2 linked regions of the Homo sapiens genome follow. The protein of the gene in region 1 interacts with the protein of each later gene in a biochemical or structural test. Each region holds a gene or a part of one and is shown in the gene's direction. Other genes may lie near its edges. The genes, in order: PPFIA3 and GIT1.

Region 1 (3,807 bases):
TTTTTTTTTGTTTGTTTGTTTGTTTTGTTTTTTTTTGAGACTGGGTCTCTCTATATCGCCAAGCTGGAGTGCAGTGGCACGATCTTGGCTCACCGCAACCTCTGCCTCCCGGGTTCAAGCGATTCTCCTGCCTCAGCCTCCCGAGTAGCTGGGACTACAGGTGCGTGCCACCACGCAAGCTAATTTTTGTATTTTTAGTAGAGATGGGGTTTCACCATGTTGGCCAGGCTGGGCTCAATCTCTTGACCTCGTGATCCAACAGCCTCAGCCTCCCAAAGTGCTGGGATTACATGAGTGGGCCACCTTGCCCGGCCGTTACTGTGTTTTTTTTTTGAAATGGAATCTCACACTGTTGCCCAGGCTGGAGTTCAGTGGTGCTATCTCGGCTCACTCTAACCTCCACCTCCCGGGTTCAAGCGATTCTTGTGCCTCAGCCTCCCCAGTGGCTGGGACTACAGGTGCATGCCACCATGCCCGGCTAATTTTTTTTGTATTTTTAGTAGAGACGGGGGTCACCATGTTGCACAGCCTGGTCTTGAACTCCTGACCTCAAGTGATCTGCCCATCTCGGCCTCCCAAAGTGCTGGGATTACAGGCATGAGCCACTGCGCCCAGTCCTGGCCTTGCTTTTTTTTTTTTTTTTTTTTCTTTTCCCGAATGGAGTAGGTCTTTAGATTCTTAGGGAGCCGGGGTCCAGATTTCTGGGAAATTGAAGGAGGCAGGAGTTGGGCTGGCTAGTAGGTGAGACCAACCCTGTGACATTATACAGGTAACCACATCCTAGTGACCTAATCCTGGGTCCCTTGGCCCTGTGGCCTTCTTAAGGCATGGTTCTGGTCTGGGCCTCAGTTTTCCTACCCATGCAGTGGGTTGAGGGGGATTCTCAGTAGAGCCAGAATAGGTAGACACTGATTTTCTCCACATTCACTCATACGATACCAGGGTCGGCCAGCTTTGGTTCCTTTGAGTGGGCTAGGCTTAGGTTTGCTGCCACTGTCTGTTGGAGTCTGACCTCAGTTTTCCCAAATCCTCTCACCCAGGTAGCCAGGACTGTTTTCCTAAGAGCAATGGCACAGGCACAGTGGCATACTTTGGGATGCTGAGGCAGGAGGATCCCTTGAGTCCAGGAGTGAGACCTCATCTCCACAAAAAAAAAAAAAAAAAAAAAGGTCAGGCGCGGTGGCTCACGTCTGTAATCCCAGCACTTTGGGAGGCCGAGGCGGGCAGATCACGAGGTCAGGAGTTCGAGACCAGCCTGGCCAACATGGTGAAACCTTGTCTCTACTAAAAATACAAAAATTAGCTGGGCATGGTGGCGGGTTCCTGTAATCCCAGCTACTCGGGAGGCTGAGGGAGGAGAATTGCTTGAACCGGGACCCGGGAGGTGGAGGCTGCAGTGAGCCGAGATCGCATCACTGCACTCCAGCCTGGGTGACAGATCACTCCAGCTAAAAAAAAAAAAAAAAAAAAAAAAGAAAGTAGGGAAAGGAAAAGAAAAGAAAAGAAAAGAAAAAAATTAGCCAGGTATGCTGGTGTGTGCCTGTAGTCGCAGCTACTCAGGAGGCTGAGTTGGGAGGACTGCTCGAGTCTGGGTCGTTCAGGCTGCAGTGGGCCGTGATCGCGCCACTGAACTCCAGCCTGGGTGACAGAGTGAGACCCTGTTAAAAAAAAATAATAATAATAATAGGCCTCAGTTTCCCCTGGCAGCACCTGGTGGCCAATCTTTGGTTTCCCCGGTGGAGTGACAGGGTGGCGGTGCCTGTTTCCCTGTGTCATGATCACAGTGCCTGGGCCTCAGTTTCTTCTGTGCAGTGCTTGGTTTGCCCCCAACTATTTCCCCTACGTGGTATCCGAGTGGCTGTGCCTCAGTTTCTCTGTTGTGCCTTGACAAGGCCGGTCTGTTCCTTGCCCTCCCCGCCCCGCAGGCCCGCACCGCCGCCATGATGTGCGAGGTGATGCCCACCATCAGCGAGGATGGCCGGCGGGGCTCGGCGCTGGGCCCGGACGAGGCGGGCGGGGAGCTGGAGCGCCTCATGGTCACGATGCTCACGGAGCGCGAGCGCCTGCTGGAGACGCTGCGCGAGGCACAGGACGGGTTGGCTACAGCGCAGCTGCGGCTGCGCGAGCTCGGCCACGAGAAGGACTCGCTGCAGCGCCAGCTCAGCATCGCGCTGCCCCAGGTCTGGGCGGGACAGGGGCGGGGCATGAGGGGGCGGGGCCTCGGGGGGAAGAAGGCGGTCCGGAAGGGGCCGGGCTTGGCGCCTGGAAGGGAGGAGTCTGGGCGAGGCTTGCCGTTAATGGGCGGGGCCTGAGTGGCAAGGGACAGCGGGACTTAGCAGGGAGGGCGGGACCTTCAAACTTCCAGTCCCAGTGAATGAAGGAGACAGGGAAAGGATTGAGCCGAATGTCCAGATCCTGCCAATGTCTGGACAGGAGTTTGCAGCTCTGACGAAGGAGCTGAACTTATGTCGGGAGCAGCTGCTGGAGAGGGAGGAAGAGATTGCAGAGCTGAAGGCGGAACGGAACAACACGCGGGTGAGGGGTGTTGAGGGCGGGGCCTAAGTGGGGGCGGGGCCTCGTGGTGTTGAAGTGGGGGGCGGGGCCTCTCAGTGTTGCAGCGTGACCTATTTTTTTCCCCCATCTCGCCTTTCTGTCTTCTCCTCTTCCCTGCTCCCACTTCCTGGCTGGTCTCCCACTCTGGTGCCACTCCTTCCTCCCTGTCTCCATAACTTTTCTCTTTTCTGTACCACCGGTTCCTTGACCCCGACCTCCTCTCTTTTCCTGACCTGTCTCGGTGCTCCTTTATATGGCTCCATCTTTTCCTCCATGTGTCCGCCCTACCTGTCACCCTTTTTCTCACATCTGCCCCTTTTCCCTTGCCTCTTTTCCTTGACCCCATGCCGTGTGCTTGCAGCTGCTCCTGGAACACCTGGAGTGCCTGGTGTCCAGGCACGAGAGGTCACTGCGCATGACCGTGGTGAAGCGCCAGGCCCAGTCCCCGGGTGGGGTCTCCTCGGAGGTAGAAGTGCTCAAAGCTCTAAAGTCTCTCTTCGAGCACCACAAGGCCCTGGATGAGAAGGTATGAGAATTAGAAGAGCAGGGGTGGAGAATGGAAACCTATAGTTGACTGGGGCTGTTCTGAGTGGGAGAGATTCTGGCCGTGATTGGTTGGGGATGTTCTGAGTTGGAAGAATGTTGACTGTGATTGATTGGGACAGGATACATAGACTGGGACCTGACTGGTTGATAGCAGAAAAATAAACCAGGATGGGGGCTAACAGTGGATGGGGCAGATTGGATAGCTGGTTGCGGCTGCATACCCGTTATGGAGACAGGAGCCCCAACGCTGCCCTATCGGATCCGTCCCAGGGGTGTTCTGGACCAGGGGCAACTGTCCTAAACTGGATCTTGTCTCCAGCTGACTGTTGCCCTGCCCCGATCCCCAGGTCCGGGAGCGGCTGCGGATGGCGCTGGAGCGCGTGGCAGTGCTCGAGGAGGAGCTGGAACTGAGCAATCAGGAGGTGTGGGTGTGGCCAAGACAGGGAATTTGAATCCAAGGGGAGGGGCTAAGGGGCTGCCCACGGGGCGGAGCCGGTTGGGTGGGTTCCAGAGAGAATCTATTGGGGCAGGACTAGGGCAGACAAGCTATGGGGTTGGACTATGGAGAGAAACCAGTGGGGTTCCTAAGTGGGCACGCATTGCGCAGGGCTACGGGGAGAATCTCCCAGTGAGAGTGAGATTAAGGGTAGAACCAGGGGCTGGGGCTCAGGCTGGGACTAAGGAGGAAGTGATTGAATGGGGAAAAGC
Region 2 (3,807 bases), on another chromosome or scaffold:
CACAGGACAAGTGTGAGTGTGTTGCTAGGCAGCTGGACATGACATGGCTGCTCTGGCAGCTTGTGCCACCTCGTCAGGCACCGTATGTGTTCCTGCCTGCCTGGGGAGTCCAAGAGAGGAAGGGGGCAGGGAGCCCTGGAGAATGTGCATCTTCCCCTTTCCTTAGGCTTGGCCCACCTCGCCACACGATCTCAGTCAAGGGCCTCTCCTCACCCCATGGGCTTCTATCTCAGCCTTTTCCACTTTGGCAACCCTGGGGGTGAGAGTGAAGGCCTCAAGATGCCTGTCCTGTAGGTATCTCTGGTGAGCAAGGCCGGGGACATGTTACGGGACAAGCTACAGGCTGATTTGTCTCTTCATAGTGTAGATTGCAGAGTGGGACAAATGTTGGGCTCCTCTTCCTCCCTTATGGAGGTAGAATTTGTGTGTGTCAATGCCTGCACCTGAGTGTTCATCCTGATGGGCTTTTACATGTGTGTATACCCATGTAACTACTGCTCTGATCATGTTATAGAATAAGGGTATCCAATCTTTTTGCTTCCCTGGGCCACATTGGAAGAAGAATTTTCTTGGGCCACACCTAAAATACGCTAACACTAATGATAGCTGGTGAGCTAAATAAAACAAGCAAAAATAAAAATAAAAAATAAAGTCACAAAAAAGTCTCATAATGTTTTAAGAAAGTTTATGAATTTGTGTTGGGCCACATTCAAAGCTGCCTGGGCCGCATATGGACTGCAGGTTAGACAAGCATGTTATAGAACATTTCCATCACCTTAGGGGGCTTCCAAGTACCCCCTCCCAGTCCGTGCACCCCAGAGGTAACCACCATTCTGACTCTACCCCAAGGACTACTCTCGCCTGCCTTCATGATGTGGGCTTTTCCCTTAGTCTAGTGGAGATCTGGCCCTTAGCTCAGGGGAGGGAGGCCTGAGGCTAGCCTGTATGTGCAAACCTACTGGCCCTGGAGGCCACTGATGGCTTCAGGTGGTGGCAGGAATTCACCGTAGTAGAGGCCTCCATGGGGTTGGCACTGGTTAACGTGATCCCAGGATCACGCCTGCTACCTCTCCACACATACAGACCCATACCCTGCCGGTGGAGCCAGAAGCGCAGGGGGAGGGCTGACGAGTTCCCTTACAGTTCCTGTCCTTTCCGTCCCAGGTTTGGTCCAAGGAGCTTCTTGACGCAAGGATCCCTTCACCTTAAACTACAATCTGGGTAGTCCCAAGGGCACTTGCACAGAGGGAGGAGACAGAATGGTTAGGGTGGGCGTCCCATCTGTGTCATCCAGAAATGAGCTGACACCAATAGCGGCTGCCCAGACCAGGACAGTGTCCTTTGCCTACCATTCTTCTCAGGTCACCTGGAGGAGAAGGAGAACCCCTCCCCCAGGCTGGGGGAAAGTGCCAGGCAAACCCTTGGACCACACTCCTGCATCCTGGTCTTGGTTACTGCCATAGCCAGGGTCACTCACCACATCTGGTCTGCCCATGGCTTAGGGCTCTGGAGCCATTGGCCGTGGATATATAGTCAGCCTTCCATGCCTGGCTTCTCCGGTAGGACCACAGACCTCAGATCAGCCCATTTATGATCCTGCCCTGGGCGGCTCCCCACTTACAGGAAACCCCACCAAGAGGAATTTGGGCTGCATCATTTCCGGCTTCCTGCCTGGGCTGCTGGAGGTGGCTGGCTGGCAGCCCCCTGACCCAGTGGTGTTTGGAGTGGGGAGAGGGAGGTCTCCACACCTGGGGTGCCTCACTATTTGGGTAAAGCCAGCCCAGAAGTGCATGCTAGGGCTCCCCCTCTTGGCGAAGAAGGCTGGTCCCTTCCTCCTGAGCCCTGGAGTCAGCCCCCCAGGAAGGTGTTGGCGGTCACCTTGGGCATCCCTCTGTTGCCCTGATTGGGAGGGGGTCCCTTAAAAAGCCTAAACCCGCTGCACTCCAGCCTGGGCGACAGAGCGGGACTCCGTCTCAAAAAAAAAAAAAAAAAAAAAGCCTAAACCCAAAGACAGGCCTCTCTCCTTTACTTCCTGTTTTCATGCCTCAGTGGGGGTCACTTGCTGTGGGCAGAGCTCAGGCTGGGCCCCTGACTCAGAGTCTCCTCAATTTTCCTGGGAACTTTGGTGGAAGTCCTTAGAGGGGAAAGGCCTGAGAATTGCCTTCTAGTTGGGAGAGATTCTTATCCCCCTAAGCCTGTCCCTCCCCTGATGGGGATACTTCTGAACACCCTGAGCGCTACAGGGCAAGGCAGAGAGCCAGTCCCCCACCCCCACCCCAGGACAGGGTTTCCTGAGACAGGGTGGGGGCCGCTGGGCAGAGCAAAGTGTCCTGGGAGAGAGGCGCCCTGCCCCCACTCTCAGGCGGCACACAATGGCTGCTTTCTCCCCCGTGACCTTTCCGCAGCCTGAGTCGTATGCAGCTGTCTCCCAAGGGGCCTAGGATGGGTGGCATCTCCTCCACCCTTGAGAAGAACCCCGGAACTCCCACCCAGTCCTGGCCCTGCTTCTTCTCCCAAGTTCACTTTTCCCAAAAGAGTGGAGAGCAGGCTATAGAGGCAGAGGGACAGCAGCAAGTGTGGACATGGCATGGTCTCAGGCATGAAAGTGCCACATCCTGGCAATTCTACTCATTAGCCTCGCATCCTTGAATAAGCCCTTTAACCTCTCTGAGCCACTGTTTCTTCATCACAGAGGTAGCATGTCCTACCTTGCCTGACAGTTGCAAGCAGCATCACACATAATGTACCCAGCTGGTACCTAGTGGGTGCCCAGTCAAGCCCAGCTCCTTTGCTCTGTCCATCTTCCTTAAGAGGGCTCCAGCTTACACCCTCAGTGATGATGGCAGGAGGCTCCAGCATGAAAGGACCTCACCTGCTGGCAGGAGGCCAGAGGCAGGACCTGTGGACGGGTGTGATCTGTCAGGCATGTTTCAACAGCATCTGGCATGCAGCAGCATCTGGGTTGCATCCCCTTGGGGATCCCTTCCTCCCTTCGGGACGGGCTGGGGCAGAGACCTCGTTTCCTGGGAAAAGGCTGAGAGACTGGTAGCAGTGGCTGCAGGGCAGGAAACTGTGCCTGCTGAATGGGCCCTGGGGACTGCATATCCCAGAGGGGTAAGGATGTAGGAAAGGGCATGGCTCTGTCAGCCCCCAGCTGTGAGCTCTTGGGGAGATCCCTCACTGGTAACCTGGCCGTAGTGATGGTCCCAGCTCCTAGGCTGTTGGAGACTGAGTGAGTGAATGTGTGGAGAGTACTAGGCTTGGCACGGGCCAGAGCAGGTGCTCAGGAGGTCTGGCCCATCATCTGGCTCCGGCTGACCCTTGCCCTCACCCTGGCAGACCCTGGCTGGGCATCCATCAGCAGGGGTGTGCTGGTGTGTGACGAGTGCTGCAGCGTGCACCGGAGCCTGGGACGCCACATCTCCATTGTCAAGCACCTTCGCCACAGCGCCTGGCCTCCCACGCTGCTGCAGGTACAGGGCTCAGTCGGGTGGTTCTTCCTTCCCCTCAGGCAGAGTGTGCTGAGCATGAGGGCGTTTCCCCCTCACCCACATACACCCCCATCTGGAATCTGCAGCTTCCAAGGGGCAGCACCCCCCTAGGGCAGAGGCTAATCCTGACCCTTTCCTCCCATCTACTCACTTCATGCAGAAGAGTAGCTCACACCCCTGCTCTGCCACTTATCAACGTGGTCGTGTAGCATTGAGCAAGTTGCTTCACCTCTCTGAGCCTTGGCACACTCATGGGATCTGTGTCTTTGGGCAGCTGGACTAGATGGAGGTGTGGTGGTGCGGGCACACAGTAGGC

Evidence for each region.
Region 2: the proteins of PPFIA3 (region 1) and GIT1 form a complex in vitro, tested with the Homo sapiens proteins (one study listed by BioGRID).

Annotation. Positions count from the first base shown.
Region 1 is NC_000019.10:49,125,934-49,129,740, forward strand, and holds part of PPFIA3 (liprin-alpha-3), read left to right. Parts: intron 1-1,925; 5' UTR 1,926-1,940; coding exon 1,941-2,180; intron 2,181-2,433; coding exon 2,434-2,535; intron 2,536-2,914; coding exon 2,915-3,079; intron 3,080-3,446; coding exon 3,447-3,521; intron 3,522-3,807. UniProt on the Homo sapiens protein: May regulate the disassembly of focal adhesions. May localize receptor-like tyrosine phosphatases type 2A at specific sites on the plasma membrane, possibly regulating their interaction with the extracellular environment and their association with substrates.
Region 2 is NC_000017.11:29,583,149-29,586,955, reverse strand, and holds part of GIT1 (ARF GTPase-activating protein GIT1), read left to right. Parts: intron 1-3,339; coding exon 3,340-3,473; intron 3,474-3,807. UniProt on the Homo sapiens protein: GTPase-activating protein for ADP ribosylation factor family members, including ARF1.